Homo sapiens: one gene and its partners. The protein of the gene in region 3 interacts with the protein of the main gene of each other region in a biochemical or structural test. Each region holds a gene or a part of one and is shown on either strand. Other genes may lie near its edges.

Evidence for each region. Proteins that work in one complex are often made in the same cells at the same time.
Region 1: the proteins of LDB3 (region 3) and PLXNB1 interact in a test that uses a peptide from one of them, tested with the Homo sapiens proteins (one large-scale study listed by IntAct).
Region 2: the proteins of LDB3 (region 3) and OR8G1 interact in a test that uses a peptide from one of them, tested with the Homo sapiens proteins (one large-scale study listed by IntAct).
Region 4: the proteins of LDB3 (region 3) and EVI5 interact in a test that uses a peptide from one of them, tested with the Homo sapiens proteins (one large-scale study listed by IntAct).

The regions. Positions count from the first base shown.
Region 1 is NC_000003.12:48,426,518-48,432,000, forward strand, and holds the start of PLXNB1 (plexin-B1 precursor), read right to left. Parts: upstream 3,570-5,483; 5' UTR 3,491-3,569; exon of another isoform or gene 3,236-3,490; intron 2,828-3,235; exon of another isoform or gene 1-2,827. UniProt on the Homo sapiens protein: Receptor for SEMA4D. Plays a role in GABAergic synapse development. Mediates SEMA4A- and SEMA4D-dependent inhibitory synapse development. Plays a role in RHOA activation and subsequent changes of the actin cytoskeleton.
Region 2 is NC_000011.10:124,243,458-124,248,363, reverse strand, and holds part of OR8G1 (olfactory receptor 8G1), read right to left. Parts: intron 564-4,906; 5' UTR 484-563; intron 1-483. UniProt on the Homo sapiens protein: Odorant receptor.
Region 3 is NC_000010.11:86,726,942-86,731,847, reverse strand, and holds part of LDB3 (LIM domain-binding protein 3), read right to left. Parts: intron 1-4,906. UniProt on the Homo sapiens protein: May function as an adapter in striated muscle to couple protein kinase C-mediated signaling via its LIM domains to the cytoskeleton.
Region 4 is NC_000001.11:92,700,840-92,705,745, reverse strand, and holds part of EVI5 (ecotropic viral integration site 5 protein homolog), read left to right. Parts: intron 1-1,001; coding exon 1,002-1,191; intron 1,192-1,824; coding exon of another isoform or gene 1,825-1,905; intron 1,906-1,913; exon of another isoform or gene 1,914-2,009; intron 2,010-2,126; coding exon 2,127-2,351; intron 2,352-3,530; coding exon 3,531-3,605; intron 3,606-4,906. UniProt on the Homo sapiens protein: Functions as a regulator of cell cycle progression by stabilizing the FBXO5 protein and promoting cyclin-A accumulation during interphase. May play a role in cytokinesis.

The DNA of each region.
Region 1 (5,483 bases), on a different chromosome or scaffold from region 3:
CTAGCAGATGAGGCCTGAGCAGGGTACTCCTGAGGCTGCCCTGAAGTGAACAGGGCCGGGCACAAGGCTCAGGGGAGGGTCCAGCAGCCTGGTGGAAGCCGGGACACTGTGGCCACAGCCCGGTGGGAGCAGGGGGGCCGTGGTCACAGCCTGGCTGGGCACTGCTCCCGAAATAGCTTGGGGGTTTCCATTTTTAGTGTGCAGAAAACAGGGCAGCTCTATGGGAGCAGGAACAAGGCTGCCTCTGTTAGCCACCCAAGGGGGCGGGGGGAAGGGGGCAGCAGGGAAAGTCTCGAACCCGGCCAGGATCCCAGGACTGTGGCAAGACCAGGCTGCCCAAGAGCCCCCCACCTAGTTTCCAAGGGATGAGGAAAGAAAGTTTCTTCCCATGGGAAGACAGAGTCCACCTGAGGATGGGCAGAGGCCACCTCTTGCAAGGGGCTACTGTTCAATTCTCCTGCCACCGCATGCCAGGGATGGGCCTTGGGCACAGGGTCCCATAGTTAGACCAATACTCACTCCTACATGCTTACAAATATTTGCTCAGAGCCTACTGCGTGCCAAAGTTCTCCAGCCCTCAAGGGGCAGTAACAAAACCACTCCCCATATGTGAAATCAAAACTGCATTGATGCATGACAGAGCCTTGGGAGATGAAAAAATGGTTAAAAACAAAAACAAAAAAAAAACACTGGATGAGGAGACAACAGGAAGAAATGGGCGGGATCAGAACAGCTCCTGGCCAGGCCACTGAGGAGGTCGGCCGCTGACCCACTCCAGGGAAAGTGGTCAGGCTTCTGCCAGCAGTCTCCCTGTGAATCAGGACCTAGCACCCCTTGCCCCTCCACACATACCATGGGTGTCGGAAGGAGGACAGAAAGAAGAGCAGTGACTTTTTCTCCTCCATTTCAGGCACATGGATTTCACTTAATCTCTGCCACAGGCCACTGAGCAGCTCCCAGCCCCTCCAATCTAGCCTCCCAACTCCCAACTTCTCAGGACTTTCCTTGAGCAGAATTGAGTACACCCCTCCCCCAAGAGCCTCTGGGGCACCCCAGAGCGGGAGGGATAAAGGCCTACCCCTCCAGTCCACACCTCTCCCACCCGATCCATGCCAGTGCTCCCCCACACATGCCCTTCGTTCCTGCCAGCCTGAACTGCAGGCTGCTTGGCTCCTCCAACCGCTGCACAGGCTCTTGCCGCTGCCTGGAATGCCCACTCCCTCGCTATCCCATTAACTCCTACACCAACCATCCTCTCCCTGGGGAGCCTCCCCTGTCCTCCCAGGCTCCTGAGGAGGCCGCTGCATGCGGTGGACAGAATGGACACACCTAGCCACCACCCTGACAGGCACGGCCGCTCTGCCTCAGGCTTTCCGAGCCTCAGATTTCCTAGTTGTACAATGGGAGGCAGGATTGCTCTGACCAGTAAACATGAAACAGTGTGTGCCTGGCATTAGTGATGCCAACCAGGGTCACCTTTCTCCCTGTTCCACCCTCCTACTCTGGACTTGAAGCTCCTTGAAGGCAGGGAGTATGGCTTCTGATTCAGAGGCCCCAGCAACTTACACAGACTTCAGCACAGACCAGATGCTCCCTGTATGGTGAACGAACCCCCATTTCACACCCAAGAAAACCCAACAAGTAGGGGAGATAGGGGGCCCACAATCCCTCCAAGCCACTTGGTCTCTCAAAGGGAACACATTGGCCCCACTTTTATTAATGACCAGGCCAGGGCAGACTGAAAAGGCTGATCTAGAACCAGACCTCACATCCCCAACTTACACAGCCAGGATCTCCTGCCCATTCCCAATATCTGAGGCCCTGCTCAGACTCACAGCCAAAGCCTAACTCTGCCTGTGCCCAGTGCTCCCCCACACATGCCCTGGAGTCTCTTCTGGGGCCACCCTACTCTGAACCTTTTCAGGGGGCGCAAGACTGCCCAACTTCTGTCTGTAGAGCAAGCACCTCCCGGACCCCCGTGGAGCTGTCCTCGACAACAAAAGGGGCTCACAAACCCCGCCATTCCGCACCTGCAGAGGGGCCATAGGACAGCCCACATTTGCCTTGCCTGCCAGTTAGTGGGAAACCGGCCTTCCCGTTTCACCCTCCTGCTCAGCTCCCAGGGTTCACTACAGAGGTGAGTTATTCATTGACAGTGCAGTGGTGCCCGCTGCCCGCCCTGTTTTCTGTGTGTTGAGGAGGGGTGGGGAGATCCACCATTTACCAGGCACCTGCGATGACCCAAGGCGCTCATCGATCACCCACTTAATATGTCTGTGTGTGGAGAGGAGGGTCCCCCCCACCCGCCCGGGGGTCAGGAGGCTCGAGGTCCGCCTTTGTCAGTCCCACCGGGAGCAGCCAGAAAGGGCTGTTACTACTGAGGGGAAGCCCCGACCTCCCCACTCGGCTCGTCCTTGACCCTCCCCAACCCCCAGACCCCGAGGCGAGGACCCCATCACTGGCCCTGGGAGGGCGGGGAAGGGGCCGGCCGGTCCCCGGCGGCGACGGCGAGGAGGGGGCGCGGAGGAGCAGCTCCACCTCCTCAGTCTCCCAATCGCGTTCCAGGCGGAGTCGCCAGAGTTTCCCTTCGCGCGGAGAAGTGTGGTCCCAACTCTCAAAACCAAAGCCGCCCACCACTCACCCAGGCCGCCCCTGCCCGGCGGGATCGGGGCCCCGGCCCGTTCCACCTCGGGAGCCCCGTTCCTCGCCGCCCTGGCCCCGAGCCCCGCACTCACCACCCGGCCGGGCCCCGCGGGATGTGCGCGCCGAGGCGGGCGTCGGCCGCTCCGGGCTCGGGCTCCGCGCGCAGCGGCCTCTCCCCGGGTCTGGCGGAGCCGCAGCTGTTACCCGGAGACCGAGGGGCGGAAAACTGCGCCCGCTGCCCGCCCCTCCCGCGCGGCGCTGCCACCGCCGGGAACAAAGGAGACAAAGCCGCGTCGGCCGGGCTCGTCTCCGCTCCTTCCCCCTCGCCTGCCGGGCTGCCCTCCCCCCGCCCGCCGCCCGGGCCAGGCCGGAAGCAGCCCGGAGAGCCGGGCGCGCGGCCCCGAACCGCCCGGGACCCCGCATTCCAGCCCCGCGGGCTCCGCATCGGCCGAGGGCTGGGGACCCGACCCCTCCCGCACGGGGGAGGGCGGGGGCGGGCTGCACCGCGGCGGTCGCCATGGCAACGCGGGTCGCCCGGAGGGGTGAGGAGTGAACCCCGGGAGCCAGAGCCGCCCCGCCCCGTCGGCCTCACCTGCTCGCCTCCTTGGAACCGGAACTGGGAACTTTCCTGGTTGCCAGGAGCCGAGGCGGGGGGTCGCGCTCCGCACCCGCAGGTGCTGGTGGAACAGCGTCCCGGCCTCTTCCCGCCCGTCCAGAGCCGGGTAGCACCCGAGTCCCTCACCAGCCCGACCCGTTCTTCTGCCAGCGCCCGGCCTCGCCCCGCGCCCGGAGCTCCCTTTCCCTTCCTTACCCGGCTCCGGTGGTCATCCTCCCCAACTTTCTTTACCTGAACTCCAAGGCGCCTTGTTTCTCCCCTGCGCACCTGGCCCTGCCCACCGCCCCTGCTCACCGCCCCTGCTCCCACTACTCCCCAACAGCCAATCCCTCCTTCCGGCCCCCACCTCTGGCTGTTTGAGAAGAGCATGGGCTTTGGACCTGGGCTTGCGCCATCAACTAAACCATGTAACCTGACACCAACCCCCCCCAGCCTATTTGCTCACCAGTAAGTGGGGGTGATCCCACCTCTAGCGGGGCTGTGAAGGCAGGGAACCTGGGCTGCAGAGGCGCACAAGCAAGGGCTCACTTCCTTCCTTTCTTCCCAGCCCAGGACCCAGACCTGGACCCACCCCAAGCTGAGAAGCGTTGGGCAAGTCTGGGCTCCCTCACTGGCAAACACCTGGGCCTTCTGCGGGAGGAAACGCTGGCAGAAAGGTTCTCTCCTGGGGACCATTTGTACCCTGTGCAGGGCCCTTCACACCCTGGCATGCCCACGGCTAACTCAGGACCAGAACCTGGCCCATCCTATTAGGACTTTTGGAGGACTTTGGCTCAAAGCCATTGGCACAGCTTCCTGGGAGGCAAAAACGTCACAGGCATCATCTGAAAGCCTCCAAGGCCTCCACAGGCTAGGGGAGCCTCAATCAGGAGGTTCAGGTCATCCACACTGGCTACTGCCCTAGAGCTAGAGACACCCTCTTCCCACCTCCCACCAGCTATCAAGGGTCTCCTGTCAGGTCACCCCTTTTCCTCCACTCCCACTTCCAGCACCTGAGTCCAGGTGCTTAGCACCTTGTCTGCACCAGCATAGCAATCCCTCCCTGGATCCCTCACCCTTAGCCTCTGACCTCAGACTGCCAACCTGGCACCCCGGGCCTGTGACATCATTCTGCACAACTCCCCCACACCCATCACCACCCCAGCCAGGACAGTCTGCCCCAGTCCCTCACCCACTTTGGCTTTCCTGCCTATGTAGCTTGTAGCAGCCCCCTCCACATGCACAGAATCCCTCCCTCCCCAAATCCATTCATCCAAGCACACACTTCAGGACCTATCTCACCCCAGAGGAAACTGGGACTTCCAAACCCCACAACCCCTTTCATCTGTACACAGATACGCTACCTCCTGCCCTACAAGGAATGTGAACACTCTAAGCACAGGGGTCTTTCCATCCCATGCCATTCTGGGGAGCCATTACTCGCCAAGGATAGATTGACTGAGGGACCAGGTGCTGAGAACCTGGGGTGGGGGGCATTTGGGCCATGCTCACTGCCCAAGACTGAACACAGGCTCCAAGAAGAAAGTATGCCTTATGGGAAACACTCCTGACTCCACAGGCTCTGAGAGCTCTGCACAGGCACCAGTGAACGAGTCCCCACCTGCGGCCCCCCTGCATATAGCTACCCTGCGCTCTCAAAGGGGAGTGGGTTCTCTGGAATGTGCCTGACTTCCAATACTCCAACACCAGGACTGAATACCAGCCCAAAGCTCCTGTTTACTCAGGGCACACAAGGCCACCCATGGCCATTTAGTCAAGGTCAAGGGTCACTGTTCCCCTCTGAAAAGAGATCATACATATGCCCCACTGCACCTCCCACCTGTGGGAGACCCCCCCCTCCCTATCACTGCCTCTCCATGCACACTCCCGGTGTCCTGAGCTCTGCCTATGCCTGTGGAAGATATCCCCGGGCTGTGTGGGGGTGTGCACCCAGCCCCCGTGGCACACCACTGCTGCCCAAAGCAATCTCTGTACCAGGGATCCAGACTGGCCACCAATCCCTATACTTATGTCCCCAGCAACATTTATCAACCATTCTCCCAATCTCCCTTCCCTGCTCTCCTCTGATCACTCCTCCAGTACTAGAACCAGGAAGTTCTCCCCCACATGGTAGAGAAAGTGATCCAGGAGATGGGAAGCAACCATGGTCACGAAATGAGTAGGCAGCAGGCTAGGTTCCACTCACTGGAACTCCCAGGCCATCTGACACCGGACAGTCAGGTAA
Region 2 (4,906 bases), on a different chromosome or scaffold from region 3:
CCATACAAATACTTAATTTGTATGTCATCAAAATTAAAAGCTGTTCTTCAAAAGATAGTATTAAGAAAATGAGAAGGCAATTCTATGGAAATACATATATCTGAAAAAGGGCTTTTATTCAAAATATAGAAATAATATTTACAATTAATATGAAGGCAAGAAAATTTTAAAAACAGGAAAATATCCGAACAAATTCCTTACAAAAATATGTATGAATAGTCCTTAAGTATATGAAAATATGCTCAATGTCAGTCATCAAAGAAATGAAAGTTAAAACCATAGTGATACAGCTCTGCACACCTGTATTGGAATGGGTTAAATGAAACAACTCCAACAATACCAAATGTTGGTGTGAAGTAACTGGACTTATAAAATTTGGGGGAGGTGTAAAATTGTCCAACCACTTTGGAAAAGATGTTGGCAATTTAGTATAAATTTAAACAGACACTGTGCAATATAATAATTCTGCTCCTCAGTACTTACCCAAGAAAAATGTAAACGTTTGTCTACATGAAGATTTATACAAAAATGTTCATGACAGCCTTATTCATAAGAGCCCCAAACTGGAAAAAACCAAAACATTATCAACAGATGAATACATAAATGAGATGTAGTATACACCTATACTACAATTCTCTCTCCCTCTCTCTCTTCCTCTCTCTGTCTTATATGCACACACACATAAAATATTACTCTATATTTTAAAAGGAACATATCACAAATACATGCAATAACACAAATCTCAAAAACATATTTTTTGGAATAGATTGCCCCAAAATACCTTAAATGTTTGGAAGTATTCACCAGTATAGCAATCTAGACTTACGGTTTTCTCTCTGTGAGAATTTTTAGTAATGGATTGAATTTATTTAATAGATATTACTATTCAGATCTTATCTTTCTTCTCAACTTTCCTAAATTTAAATTTGAAAATGCTTGCCCACTTTGCAAATGATCAAATATATTGTATTCTTCTTCTTTTTTGGTAATTGTTTCTTTAACATCTAAACATAATTGTAGACTATGCAGCGATTTCTTTTTTCTGATTCCTAAAATCAGTAATTTATGGTTCCATTTTTGTCTCGATCAACCATTCTAGAAATTTTCCAATTGTATTACTCAAATAAAGTAAATTAACTTTTGGGTATGTTAATTTTATGAGTGATATATTTATTTCTACTTTAGTTGTTTCTAAAAACTTTATTATATTCTTTACACATTTCTTTAGTATGATTTCCTATTTTTTTCCCTAACCTCTTGAAGTGGAAGCTTGAATCAACAATTCAACTTTTATTCTTTTCTAATGTGTACATATAAGTTATAAATTTCCATCTGAACCCCACTTTAGCTGGATCTCGCAAGGTTTGGTATACAAAATTTATGATATTATTAAGTTTAAAATATTTTATAATTTTTGTTTCAGTTTTTTCATCGTTGCAAGGATTATACAGAAGTGAATTGTTATCATTACAGATGTGGGGCCTTTTTTTTTTTTTAGCTATTTCTTTCAAAAATACATCTATTGTAATTTCATTGTAATCAATGAATACAATCTGAATTATGTAAATCATTGCAAATTACTGAGACTTTATAGTACACCATATGGTCAATTTTTGTAAATATTTCAGTACATCTTAAAGAATATGTTGTCTGTCTTTGGAGGGTCATGTGATCTATATATTTCAATTATATCTAATGCATTAATTATGTTGTTTAGATTTTTCTTGTGCATAGTGTTTTTTTTCTCTTGTTTACTATTCCAATAGCTATTTAGTGAGGTATGTCAATGTCTCCCACTAAAATTTCTGATTTTTATACTTCTTCCTTTAATTGTTCAATCCTTGGATTTAACCCCTTATCAATTACGATTTAGTAATGTATCTTGCCTAAACTTTCCTTTTTCTGATAGTATATCATCACTGATAGTGTTTGCAAATCACATTATTCTCCATTCTCTTCCATTTGATCTTTAGGTATCTTTACATTAAAATGTATTTTTAAGAAGCTACAAATAAAATACAAATTTAAAAATAGTATCACGTAAAATAGCAATAAGCTAGCATCAAATACCTAGGAATAAAATTAACAAAATACATGCAATGTTTATAGAATGAAACTTCCAAATATTTCTGAGAGAAATTAAAGAAACTGGATCCCTCCCTTACACCTTATACAAAAATTAATTCAAGATGGATTAAAGACTTGAATGTTAGACATAAAACCATAAAAACCCTAGAAGAAAACCTAGGCATTACCATTCAGGACATAGGCATGGGCAAGGACTTCATGCCTAAAACACCAAAAGCAATGACAACAAAAGACAAAATTGACAAATGGGATCTAATTAAACTAAAGAGCTTCTGCACAGCAAAAGAAACTACCATCAGAGTGAACAGGCAACCTACAACATGGGAGAAAATTTTCGCAACCTACTCATCTGACAAAGGGCTAATATCCAGAATCTACAATGAACTCAAAACAAATTTACAAGAAAAAAACAAACAACCCCATCAAACAGTGGGTGAAGGACATGAACAGACACTTCTCAAAAGAAGACATTTATGCAGCCAAAAAACACATGAAAAAATGCTCACCATCACTGGCCATCAGAGAAATGCAAATCAAAACCACAATGAGATACCATCTCACACCAGTTAGAATGGCAATCATTAAAAAGTCAGGAAACAACAGGTGCTGGAGAGGATGTGGAGAAATAGGAACACTTTTACACTGTTGGTGGGACTGTAAACTAGTTCAACCCTTGTGGAAGTCAGTGTGGCCATTCCTCAGGGATCTAGAACTAGAAATACCATTTGACCCAGCCATCCCATTACTGGGTATATACCCAAAGACTATAAATCATGCTGCTATAAAGACACATGCACACGTATGTTTATTGCGGCACTATTCACAATAGCAAAGACTTGCAACCAGTCCAAATGTCCAACAATGATAGACTGGATTAAGAAAATGTGGCACATATACACCATGGAATACTATGCAGCCATAAAAAATGATGAGTTCATATCCTTTGTAGGGACATGGATGAAATTGGAAATCATCATTCTTAGTAAACTATCGCAAGAACAAAAAACCAAACACCGCATATTCTCACTCATAGGTGGGAATTGAACAATGAGAACACATGGACACAGGAAAGGGAACATCACACTTTGGAGACTGTAGTGGGGTGGGGGGAGGGGGGAGGGATAGCATTAGGAGATATACCTAATGCTAAATGACGAGTTAATGGGTCCAGCACACCAGCATGGCACATGTATACATATGTAACTAACCTGCACATTGTGCACATGTACCCTAAAACTTAAAGTATAATACTAATAATTTAAAAAAAAGAAATTCTTAATAAGGTTAAGAAGTTTTCCTATTCATAATTTAATGACTCAGTGTTGCAAAGATATTAATTCTCTCAAACTTATGGATAGACTCAACATAATACAGTTCCTGAACAGAACATCTAAACAGATCATCAATATGTTAAGACACCAACAAAGCACTGAAGGGATCATTGGCTACTTCTGGTAATCTCTTTAGATTTATGAAAAAAATTCAATTTAGCCCGATATGGGAGTAGAATTAAGATACTGGATCTCAATATGTTATATTGTACTCCAGAAACTCAAGGTGGTTATCATAAATGTGCTAGCCTTCACACTCCATACCATTTTCTCCTTGAATCTGTCTTCACTTAACATCCTTACATAGGATCAGTAATTGCCTTCCTTTCTAGGATGTAACTTGTTTCAAATCAGGGAACTTTTTTTGTCATAGCCAATGTTTCAGTTGCTCAATATAGATGTGCCATAGACATAGTTCATCTTTATTTTATACAGGCAGGTTGCACAGGCTCTCACAACATGCTCATGAGTAAGACCGAGTAACATGGCTCTGTTGCTTTACAGCCAGATGTAGGACATATTTAAACACAAACAGTGTTTATCAATTCAGGGATTTCCCAATATGGTTAATCATCAGAGTCACCTAGGGAGATCATAGTATTCATAAAAATTGATGAATGTAAAAATGTAAATATGATTATAATTAAAAATAAAAGTTCCTGAATCACCTCCCTATGTGCTTAGTCCTGTTCCCTAGAGACATCTTAGTCTTTGTAGAATAGTTCCAGTAAACATTTTGTTTCTAGTTCTTCTGAAGCTCTTCCCACCCTGCTTCTCCATCTCTCTCTCCCTCTCTCCATCCTTTCCTCATTCTCTCTCCATCTCTCTCTCCCTCTCTCCATCCTTTCCTCGTTCTCTCTCCATCTCTCTCTCCCTCTCCATCCTTTCCTCGTTCTCTCTCCATCTCTCTCTCCCTCTCTCCATCCTTTCCTTGTTCTCTCTCCATCTCTCTCTCCCTCTCTCCATCCTTTCCTCATTCTCTCTCTAGCTCTTTCTTTTGTTATTTTTTAATTTTTATTTTAAGTTCTGGGATACATGTGCAGAATGTGCAGGTTTGTTACATAGATATACATGTGCCATGGTGGTTTGCTGCACCTATTCTAGCTCGCTCTTTTATTCAGCCATCATTACTGAGAGACAAGGGGTCGAATACTGACCCGAAGCCAAAATGCATGAAAAGTAAAATGACACATTCCCTGCTTTAATAGAACTCTCAATCTAATTCTATCCTGTTAACAATGTTTTCAATAATTTAGTTAAGATTAAAATGGAAATGAGTGATCATTTAATGTACAGATAAAATAAAACTGGAAGAAATAGCCAATACAATGAATACGTGAATTGATTGTTTATACAACCCAACAGGACTGTGTTAAGAAGAAGAGAAATACTGTTGTAGAGACTTGATACTAAGTCTAATATTCACCATAATAAGGGATGATGTGTCAATTATTTCAATAACTGAAGTAAAGTTAGAGAGGCATGCA
Region 3 (4,906 bases):
AAAAAAAAGTATTCAATCAAAAATCAGCAATGCCAAAAAGGAACAAGGCCTACTCGTGCACTGCTAGAGACATGTGAGTGAGCTCAGTGTTCCATAGGGAATCTGGCCATGTTGAACAAGAACCATTGAGATGTGACTACCCTGTAACCCAGTAATGCCACGCTAGAGAATTTTATCCTGCAGAAGCAACTCTGCAGAACAACAAAACAACCTGTGCTCAACTAGAAACTGAAAACTAGTAAAATTTCTCTCAATAGGAAGATGATTCAGTAAATTTTCATGGTGTATTTTTCCAATGGAATGCCACCATTTAAAAAGAGAGATGGGCCAGGCATGGTGGCTCACGCCTGCAATCCCAGCATTTTGGAAGGCCGAGGCAGGAGGACCACGAGATCAGGAGTTTGAGATCAGCCTGACCAACATGGTGAAACCTTGTCTCTACTAAAAATACAAAAATTAGCCGGGTGTGGTGGTGCGCACTGGTAATCCCAGCTACTCAGGAGGCTGAGGCAGGAGAATCACTTGAACCCGGAAGACGGAGGTTTCAGTGAGCTGAGATCATGCCACTGTACCCAAGCCTGGGCGACAGAGCGAGATTCCGTCTCAAAAAAAAAAAAAAAAAGGTAGATATGGAAAAGTATGCAGAGAAATATACAAAAAAACAAAAGAGATGAAATTCTTTTTTTTTTTTTTGAGATGGAGTCTCACTCTGTCACCCAGGCTGGAGTGCAGTGGCGCGATCTCAGCTCACTGCAACCTCTGCCTCCCGGGTTCAAGCAATTCTCCTGCCTCAGCCTCCCTAGTAGCTGGGATTACAGGCGCCCACCACCATACTCAGCTAATTTTTTTTGTAGTTTAGTAGAGACAGGGTTTCACCATGTTGGCCAGGCTGGTTTCAAACTCCTGACCCCAAGCAATCCACCTGCTTTGGCCTCCCAAAGTGCTGGGATTACAGGCGTGAGCCACCACGCCCAGCCCAAGAGATGAAATTCTATATCCCCATGATGACAACATATAGTCTGAGGCTGGAGGCATCCCAGAAAGAAGAGAACTAATTAATATTTGTGGGGACTACCATGGACCAAGCAGGATGCCAGACACTCTATATACAGCAGCTCATTTAATTCTCATGAAAACCTTATAAGGTAGGTAAGCCTTTCTCCCACTTCACAGCTGAAAAAACTGGGGCTCAGAGGGCCCATACGTCTTCCTTAAGTCACAGACCTAGTAAGTTGTAGGCTGGGAATCTCTGTCCATGTCTGTAAGACTCCAGTTCTATGCTAATTTTTCCCCTACCCCATAGAAGAAAGGGACTGTGTTTACTTGAAATTGATCTGGGTTCATGGGTTTGTACAGATGTAGCCCTCTGAGTTTGCTGGACTACTAGTATGTAAGCTGGGCCCTGGGTTGGCAATATGCCAGTAGGTCAGAGTCTGCCAGGAAATCACATTGGCTGGCATGGGTCCCAGCTTAGGAGAGGGCAGTGAAGATCCCTGCTGGGGGGCAGAATTGGGAGCCATCTCCAGGACACTGACATCAAGAGGAGTGCACGTGGAGTCCCCACATACAGGTATCCCCCATGGAGACAGAGAAATCACCCCCTTGAGTTGAGCTTGGGGCAATATGCATGTATTCAGTCCAAGAGAGTTGGAGAGGAAAAGGGCACCACGCTAGCCCCATGTGCAAGGCTCTGATGGTCCAGTTGGGGACGTTATACCTAGGATCACACAGGGCTTCCAATTGGGTTCTGGGAGCCAATGAGCTGCAAAAGTGTTTGAAAACATCCCAGGTGGATGCAGTGATGCTGAGTATAACCAGGCTCGTGTGGAGGCCTCAAGCTGCTGGTGACAATTTAAAGACTATGCAAAAAGATGGACATCCAAGATCTAACTGGTGAGAATGGGCTTTAGGGAAGACAGAAAGGCATCTCTGGAATGAGTCAGCCTGTCAATGACTGCAGCTGTGGGTGGGAGACCATACCTGGACTGGGACAATGCTGGTTGCTTGTGAGAACTTTGGGATGAGTCAGGCTGGGGAGAGAAGGTGTCCAGGGACTGAAGACCAACAAATGAGAAAGGGACAGAACCTCAAAGATGGCTCATAGGTGAGATGGGGCTGAGGGTGGGAACCCTCATAAGGAGTTGTGCCCAGTGTCTTCTTGGTGCAAGGTGGCTTCATAGTGGAGGAGGCCTTCTGCCCACCCAGCACAGGGGGCAACAGGGATGGTCCAACCCCCAGGCTCTGTGGCTGGGTGACATCAGGGCCTGGCTATAAAAGGGTAGCGACCATGGACAGTGCTGACTGCAAGTCCCAGCAGAGTTAGGGTAATAAACTAGGCCAGCTGCAGCAGCCCCTAGGTCTGCCTACAAAAGTTATATTACTGCCCATCCCCTCCTGATACCCACACCAGTGGGGAAGGGCAAGACTTAGAGCAAAAGAGGGATGGGTAAGACATTTTTCCTCCACTAAGGTCGGACCCTTTCCATTGGAACTCAAGTGTCGACGCCAGACAGAAGCTTAACTTTCACCCTGACCCACAGTGCACTTCTCAGGCTCCCAGCCTTCACTTTATATGCTTTGGACTTGAGGGATACTGTCCTGTTCTACTTTTGAATTGCTCACATCTGTTGCTTTGTTCACCTTTCAAGATTCTAGATTCCGTCAGGGTAGAGACTTGTTCTGGAACACTCTTGTACTGCCCAAATGCCAGGAATATTTGGTAAACTGAGTTAGTCTAAAGAATGTGCTATCCTGAGATCTCACTGGTTAGAAAACAGCACATCAGCTGGGAGAGCTACCCCAGATCTTTCTCTTACTAATTTTTTGGAAGTTACAGGAAAATACATGCTCATCAAAAGTGATTTGGAAATATGAAGTGATAGAAAGAGGACCAAAAAAAAAAAAATCCCTCAAGTCCCTCAAAGTTTTCCAATCAAAAGATTTCTTCCTAATGTTAAGACCATGTTCCGGCTGGGTGTGGTGGCTCACACCTGTAATCCCAGCACTTTGGGAGGCCGAGGTGGGTGGCTCATGAGGTCAGGAGTTCAAGACCAGCCTGGCCAAGATGGTGAAACCCCGTCTCTACTAAAAATACAAAAATTAGCCAGGTGTGGTGGCAGGCGCCTATAATCCCAGCTACTCAGGAGCCTGAGGCAGAGAATTGCTTGAACCTGGGAGGTGGAGGTTGCAGTGAGCCAAGATCGCACCACTGCACTCCAGCCTGGCGACAGAGCAAGACTTTGTCTCAAAAAAAAAAAAAAACAAAAGAACCATGTTCCACTTTGCTATATGTTGACAGAGCAGTGAGTATCATGCAGGCTGGTTTGGAGGGAGACCTAACGATCTCCATGTTGATCCTCTAAAGGGCAGTGCTATGGGCCTCTCACAGGCTGGACTTCACTCTCTGGAACTTATTTGTAATATCAGCCTTAGCCACCCCAAGCTTTACGCCTTCTTCTGGTCTCTCTCTTGGACTTTTGCTGTTGTGACTCAGCTGAAATTGCGAGGCTTGCAGAAGCAGACCCACACTCACCTTTGCCACGATTCCCTCTGCATGTGACACAGACCTCTCATCAGCCTGCCCATGGAAAACAGGCCTTCTGTGCCACTGTCTTCCTGGACCTTCCCCAAGTCTCTTGGATCCTTCCAGAAGTTGGGTAACCAGATGTGCAGGCAGTGCCTCAGGACTAGACAAGCCATGGCTTGAATGTAAGGTTCAGAGACCCCTGTGCTGTGCCTGACACAGGGGAGCTATGACTCTGCAGGGGACAAACCCAAAGCCAGTATACTTACACCATTGTCTCTTTTTGGAGGGGATGTATTTAAAACACCCTAAAAGACAACTAGAGAATCTGTTCAAAGAGCTAGAAAATCAGAGTGTTAAGGGGTTGAATTGTATTCCACAAAATTCACGTGCAAGAAGGCAGAGTTTGCCGTGAGCTGTGATCACGCCATTGCACCCCAGCCTGGGCAACAAGAGGGAAACTCCATCTCAAAAAAAAAATAAAAAAAAAAAGGAGACCCACACAGAGACAGACACACTCAGAGGAGAATGTCATGTGAAGACACACACAGAGGGGAGACAGGCTTGTGACAATGGAGGCAGGGATTGGAGTTACACAGCTGCAAGCCAAGAAATGCCAAGGATTGCTAGCAACCGCTAGTAGCTCGGAGAGAGACTATGGCCTCCTGTCAGCACCTTGATTTAGGACTTCTGGCCTCCTGAACTGTGAAAGCATTCATTTCTGTTGTTTGAGCCATCAGTTTGCAGTAATTTGTCAAGACAGCCCTAGCAAACCGACACACAGAGTGAATACAGTGTGTCCCACAGATGGCGGGGTATGGAAGCGAAGTGTGGAACCAAAAGTATATGGCCGTAAACTTTATGACTAGGGTCATCCTATGTCAGAAGTCTATAAAAATTATTCAAGTAAAAACTGTACAGATATTTCATACATTTCCAAAATTTACCTTGAGACACTCTGGTTAAAAAAAAAATAGTAGAGGTGTCTTAATTTTCCCAAATCAGCCAGGCGTGGTGGCTCACGCCTGTATTCCCACAACTTGGGGAGGCCAAGGTGGGTGAATCACCTGAGGTCAGGAGTTTGAGACCAGTCTGGCCAACATGGTGAAATCCCCTCTCTACTAAAAATACACAAAATTAGCCAGGCATGGTGGCATGTGCCTGTAGTCCCAGCTACTCAGGAGGCTAAAGCAGAAGAATCGCTTGAACCCAGGAGGCAGAGGTTGCAATGAACCGAGATCATGCCACTGTACTCCAGCCTGGGCAACAAGAGCAGAAACTCTATCTCAAAAAAAAAAAAAAAAAAATTCTCAAATCGAGATTAGGCAATGACAGATTGACATTAGGGGGCTTTCTCAGGGATGACTGTTTCCTACCTCTCCT
Region 4 (4,906 bases), on a different chromosome or scaffold from region 3:
GCTATATAAAATAGTGATAGAGCTACGTTTTCCACCTTCCTTTTATAAATAAAAGACTTAATGTAGTGATTAGTCATGGATTGGATCTTGGAAATTATCTTAACCCTTCTTTCAACAGATAAGGAGGAGGCCTAACACAGGGTTGCAAGCTCAAAATTCAACAGGGACCTTATGAGTGAGGAGGTCCCAGTTTAACAGTGTAAACCTAGTAATAAATAGCAGCTGTTAGCTGGCCTGAGTTTTAGGGGAGACTGTAGGGATTATGGAAAGTGAGCAGATTAAAGTCCTTCTGCATTTGAAGGAAGAAGCTCCCACGCAGCTATATCCTGTTCTTACTGTGCAGGAATATGGACCGGTTTTGCCTTATCTTTTTATTTTTCAAGAGAATCTAGAATTATAAATAAAGTATAAATGCATATAAGCAAATATGTGAAATCCTCCAATTTTAGTATATTAGTAATAGCTCAGTTTTTACACAAACACTGCATAGGCCAAATAAATACTTTTTGTTTGGGCAGATTGGTTATGCATGTGTGAAGCAAAATGAAAAAAGAGAAGTGATTTGGTTAATTTTGGGGGCTCTGCCTTACTTTTAAGCCTTAGACACATTGTAAACGTTTTAGGATTGGTTATTTCATAGATTTGTTGTACCTCTTCCAAGTATAAGTTCTTTTTTCCTGAAGCCTACCCAAATACTTTTCTCATCAGATTTCCCCTAATTTGAATTTTTAATGGAGACGAAGGGAAATTATAATGGGGCTAGTAGCTCAAAAATTTTTAACGTAATTTGCTTTTTCAAATTTTCAAACTGCTATAATAGGTGAAAAAAATATAGCAGTAATTTTATTGATGTGACCAAAATTTATTTAAATTATGTATATTATTAAAACTATATTTTAAAACAATGGTTAAATTGCAGTAATAAAGCTCTAAGTATCATCAATGCCTCTTCTAATATCACTGTCCGATTAGATCTTGAACAGTTTTTAATTATATTTTAGATTGTTAGAAACGGATAGTAAGTCTTTAAGATCTGTAAATGGGTCAAGAAGAAACAGTGGCTCTTCTCTTGTGTCGAGTTCATCAGCCTCTAGCAACCTCAGTCACCTTGAAGAAGATTCTTGGATTCTTTGGGGAAGAATTGTTAATGAATGGGAAGATGTACGCAAAAAGAAGGAAAAGCAAGTTAAGGTATTCATGTTCTTTGTTGAAGTTCTTATTCTTATTCCATAGTGCGTCAGACATAACTTAATAGAGGATTGGGAAAAAAACCCCAAATACAACTTCCAAGCTATATATTAAAGAGGTCTGCTTTATTTGTTTTCACTTACTTGTACCCCTAAAAGTTTTAATTTGTAGACATCAGTTGTTACAGAGGTCCTGATCATATAGAAATATATAACTGAAAATTATTTTATTTACTTATTATTATTTTATAAAGACTCACTTTGTTGCTCAGGCTGGAGTGCAGTGATGCAGTCATAGCTCACTATAACCTCGAATTTCTGGGCTTAAGCTGTTCTCCTGCCTCAGGCTCCTGAGTAGCTATGATTACAGGTGTGTGTCACCACACCTCGCTAATTTTTTATTTTCCTTTTTGTAGAGATAGGGTCTTGCTTTGTTGCCCAGGCTGGTCTCAAACTCCTGGCCTCAAGCAGTCTTCCTACCTCCGCCTCTCCAAGTGTTGTGAGCTACTACACCCGGCCCGAAAATTGTTTTAGAAATTAAATTCTCTCATTTTATTGATTCAGAAATGAAGTTGTGATATCCTGCATTCTTGAATAACAGTATTTTCCTTTTTTTTTTTTTTTTTGCCTTCAACAGCCCTTTGAATGTTGGGTACTGTACCATCATTCACAGCTCTGCAGGTTTCAAGTCCATTACCTTAAGAGGTCACACACTGAGGTGAAATGATCATTATTAATCCCCTGACCAGAAGAGGATACACCCAGGGCCCAATCTTACCCTTGACTTACAGGGTTCCCTAGTCTTATTATAAAGCTAGCTTTGTGAGTTACAAATTTAATGATGTCTTCTACTTCATTCCAACCCCCTAATAAGTCTTCCTTGGCTTGCAAGATAGGACACTTAAATAATTCATTTTTGTAATTTTATTTTATTTTTAGGAACTTGTTCATAAAGGGATACCCCATCACTTTAGAGCAATAGTTTGGCAACTTTTATGCAGTGCACAAAGTATGCCAATTAAGGATCAGTATTCAGAACTCCTGAAAATGACCTCGCCTTGTGAAAAATTGATCCGAAGGGACATTGCTAGAACTTACCCTGAACACAACTTTTTTAAGGAAAAAGATAGCCTTGGACAGGAGGTTTTATTTAATGTAATGAAGGTAAGTTTTATTTATTCATTTTTTGAAATGAAATGAATTCCTGGAAGGTTGAAATTATACATTTTTCATGATGAAGCATGACCTCCCACCACAATAATCAGTTGCTTTGGCAGTGAAATTGGTTTTAGCATCATTTTTGCCTTAATTCTTATGCTACATTACTATCTAGTATAGAGAACTTGTTAGAACATTTACTACGTTATTTAGCATTAGTTGATGGAAATGGAATAGCTTAAAAGTCACATATCATAGAGGGATCCTCATGAAAAGGAATAATTCACCATCTGTGAAGTTCAAAACCTGGGATGTGGGTTTCTCCTATCATATCTGTGTTCCTACAGTGAGCAAATTTTTCTGCTTTCTATGGCCAGCACTGTTAAGAGCACTTAGCCCTTGAAAGGTGTACCATTGTCATTTTTTCTTCAATATTGCCATTTCCCTTCCCACAGTTACTTTTTCTTTTAGCTACTTCTTTGAAATACTGACTTCTTGTTAAATCATTTCAATTTCGCCAATCCTTTGCCTTAAACCTAGTCTAGTTTTATATACATCAATATAAATTTTACTTGAATTTTTTTTTTTTTTTTTGAGATGGAGTTGCACTCTTTTTGCCCAGGCTGGAGTGCAGCGGTGTGATCTCAGCTCACTGCAACCTCCACCTCCCAGGTTCAAGCAATTCTCCTGCCTCAGCCTCCCTAGTAGCTGGGATTACATGCGCCCGCCACTACGCCCAGCTAATTTTTGTATTTTTAGTAGAGACAGGGTTTCACTATGTTGGCCAGGCTGATCTCGAACTCCTGGCCTCAGGTGATCCGCCTGCCTCTGCCTCCCAAAGTGCTGGGATTATAGGCATGAGCCACTGTGCCCAGCTCAATTTTACTTGATTTTTAAGCCCTGTTACAAATTCCTTTATTTTATTTTATTTTATTTTATTTTATTTTATTTTATTTTATGTCTTTAGAGCTAGCAAGTTTGGATTGGGAAATTGTCAAAATAAAATTTCATGTAATAAAACATTTGCTTTTTAAATATGTATAGGATAACATCTATAACAAGCAAGCAAGAGCTTTTCTCAAAAATAAATGTTTTTTAATCTGTCTGTCTTGCCAATTTTAGGTTTTTTGGAGAAGGAAGGTATAACTTACCATGTATTTTGAACAACTTTTTTTTACTTTTTAGGCTTACTCTTTAGTAGATCGTGAGGTTGGTTACTGTCAAGGAAGTGCTTTTATAGTTGGATTGTTGCTTATGCAGGTAAGTTAATATAAGTATTAAATGTCCAATGAAATTTTTTATTAAGTTGGATTGGAGAGTTTAAAAAGCATCTTTGTTTTATTAAATGTAAGTGGATATGGGTATTTTTTCCTAGGCATAATTTGAATACAAATATTTAGTTTGCATTTTAAAAGATTAAACATGTTAAAATAACATAGTAATATCTTACCACCAAATGAAATTTCAACTTCATGATAGATACATTTTTACTGTAATATTCTACTAAAGCTTGAATCTACAGTAGTTTAAAATCTTATTTGTTAACATTTAATGAAGAGTAATCTTTTTCTAACCAAGGAGGAAATAATTAAAGTGTTGGTAAGAAAATCTTATTTATATTGTACAACATCTTTAGAGATTTATAGAGAATTTAATTTATCATGGAGCTAAAAGCTTGTTATGCATACCTCACTGCATGCCCTAAAATAGTGGTACTCAGCCACTTTTACCCCCTAGGGATATAACTTTGTTATTGAGTGTGCAGTGGGTTTGGGTGGAATGTTTTCAGAATTCGGGGGTAGGATAATCATAGCTTTGAAGGGAAATGGCATATAGTATTATCTCTTCAGCTTTGTTGAAATGTTAAGTCCATCTTACTCTTTATTTAGTCTCAGATTTTAGTCCTGAAAAGGAATCATGGAGATACTTGGTTTGAGTCATATAGGGTGGTTTTGCAACTCAGTTCTGCACATGCTGTATGAATTTAGGCTAGATTATTTAACCTCTCTCTGAGCCTTAGTAAGATAATACTATCTACTTTCAGATTAGTTGTGAGGGTTATTTGAGGTAATGTATGTAGAAGCCTAGCATGGTGTTTGGCTCATAGGAGATAGGCAGTGAAAGTTCAGTGGCTTACCCAAGATCACACATCCTGGTAGATAAAAGCAAAGTAGGAATCAGAAACCGTTTCCTGATGCTTTGCTTCAGCTTCCCAACTGCTTTGAGTTTTAAAGCTCTTGTTGCTGTCAGGAGTATACACTTTTCTAAGTAGAAGAGACCTGATGTCAGAGACACTGATTTATAATAAAAATAATTTTTACTTTGTGTTACAGCATATATAAGAACACATAAGAAGTGCTCCCAGTGGTTATTGATTTCTAAGTGGAATTAGGTTATAAATAATACAATGCAAAACTAGATTTGTTAATGTTAAGGTATAGTTGTTTAACAAAATTATGATTTTCCAGCTTTGCGCAGTGGCAGTATCGTAGCCAGTGAGGTTTATCCGAGGCGCAATTATTGCTAATTGAAATTATGATTTTCCTACTTTATTTAGTATT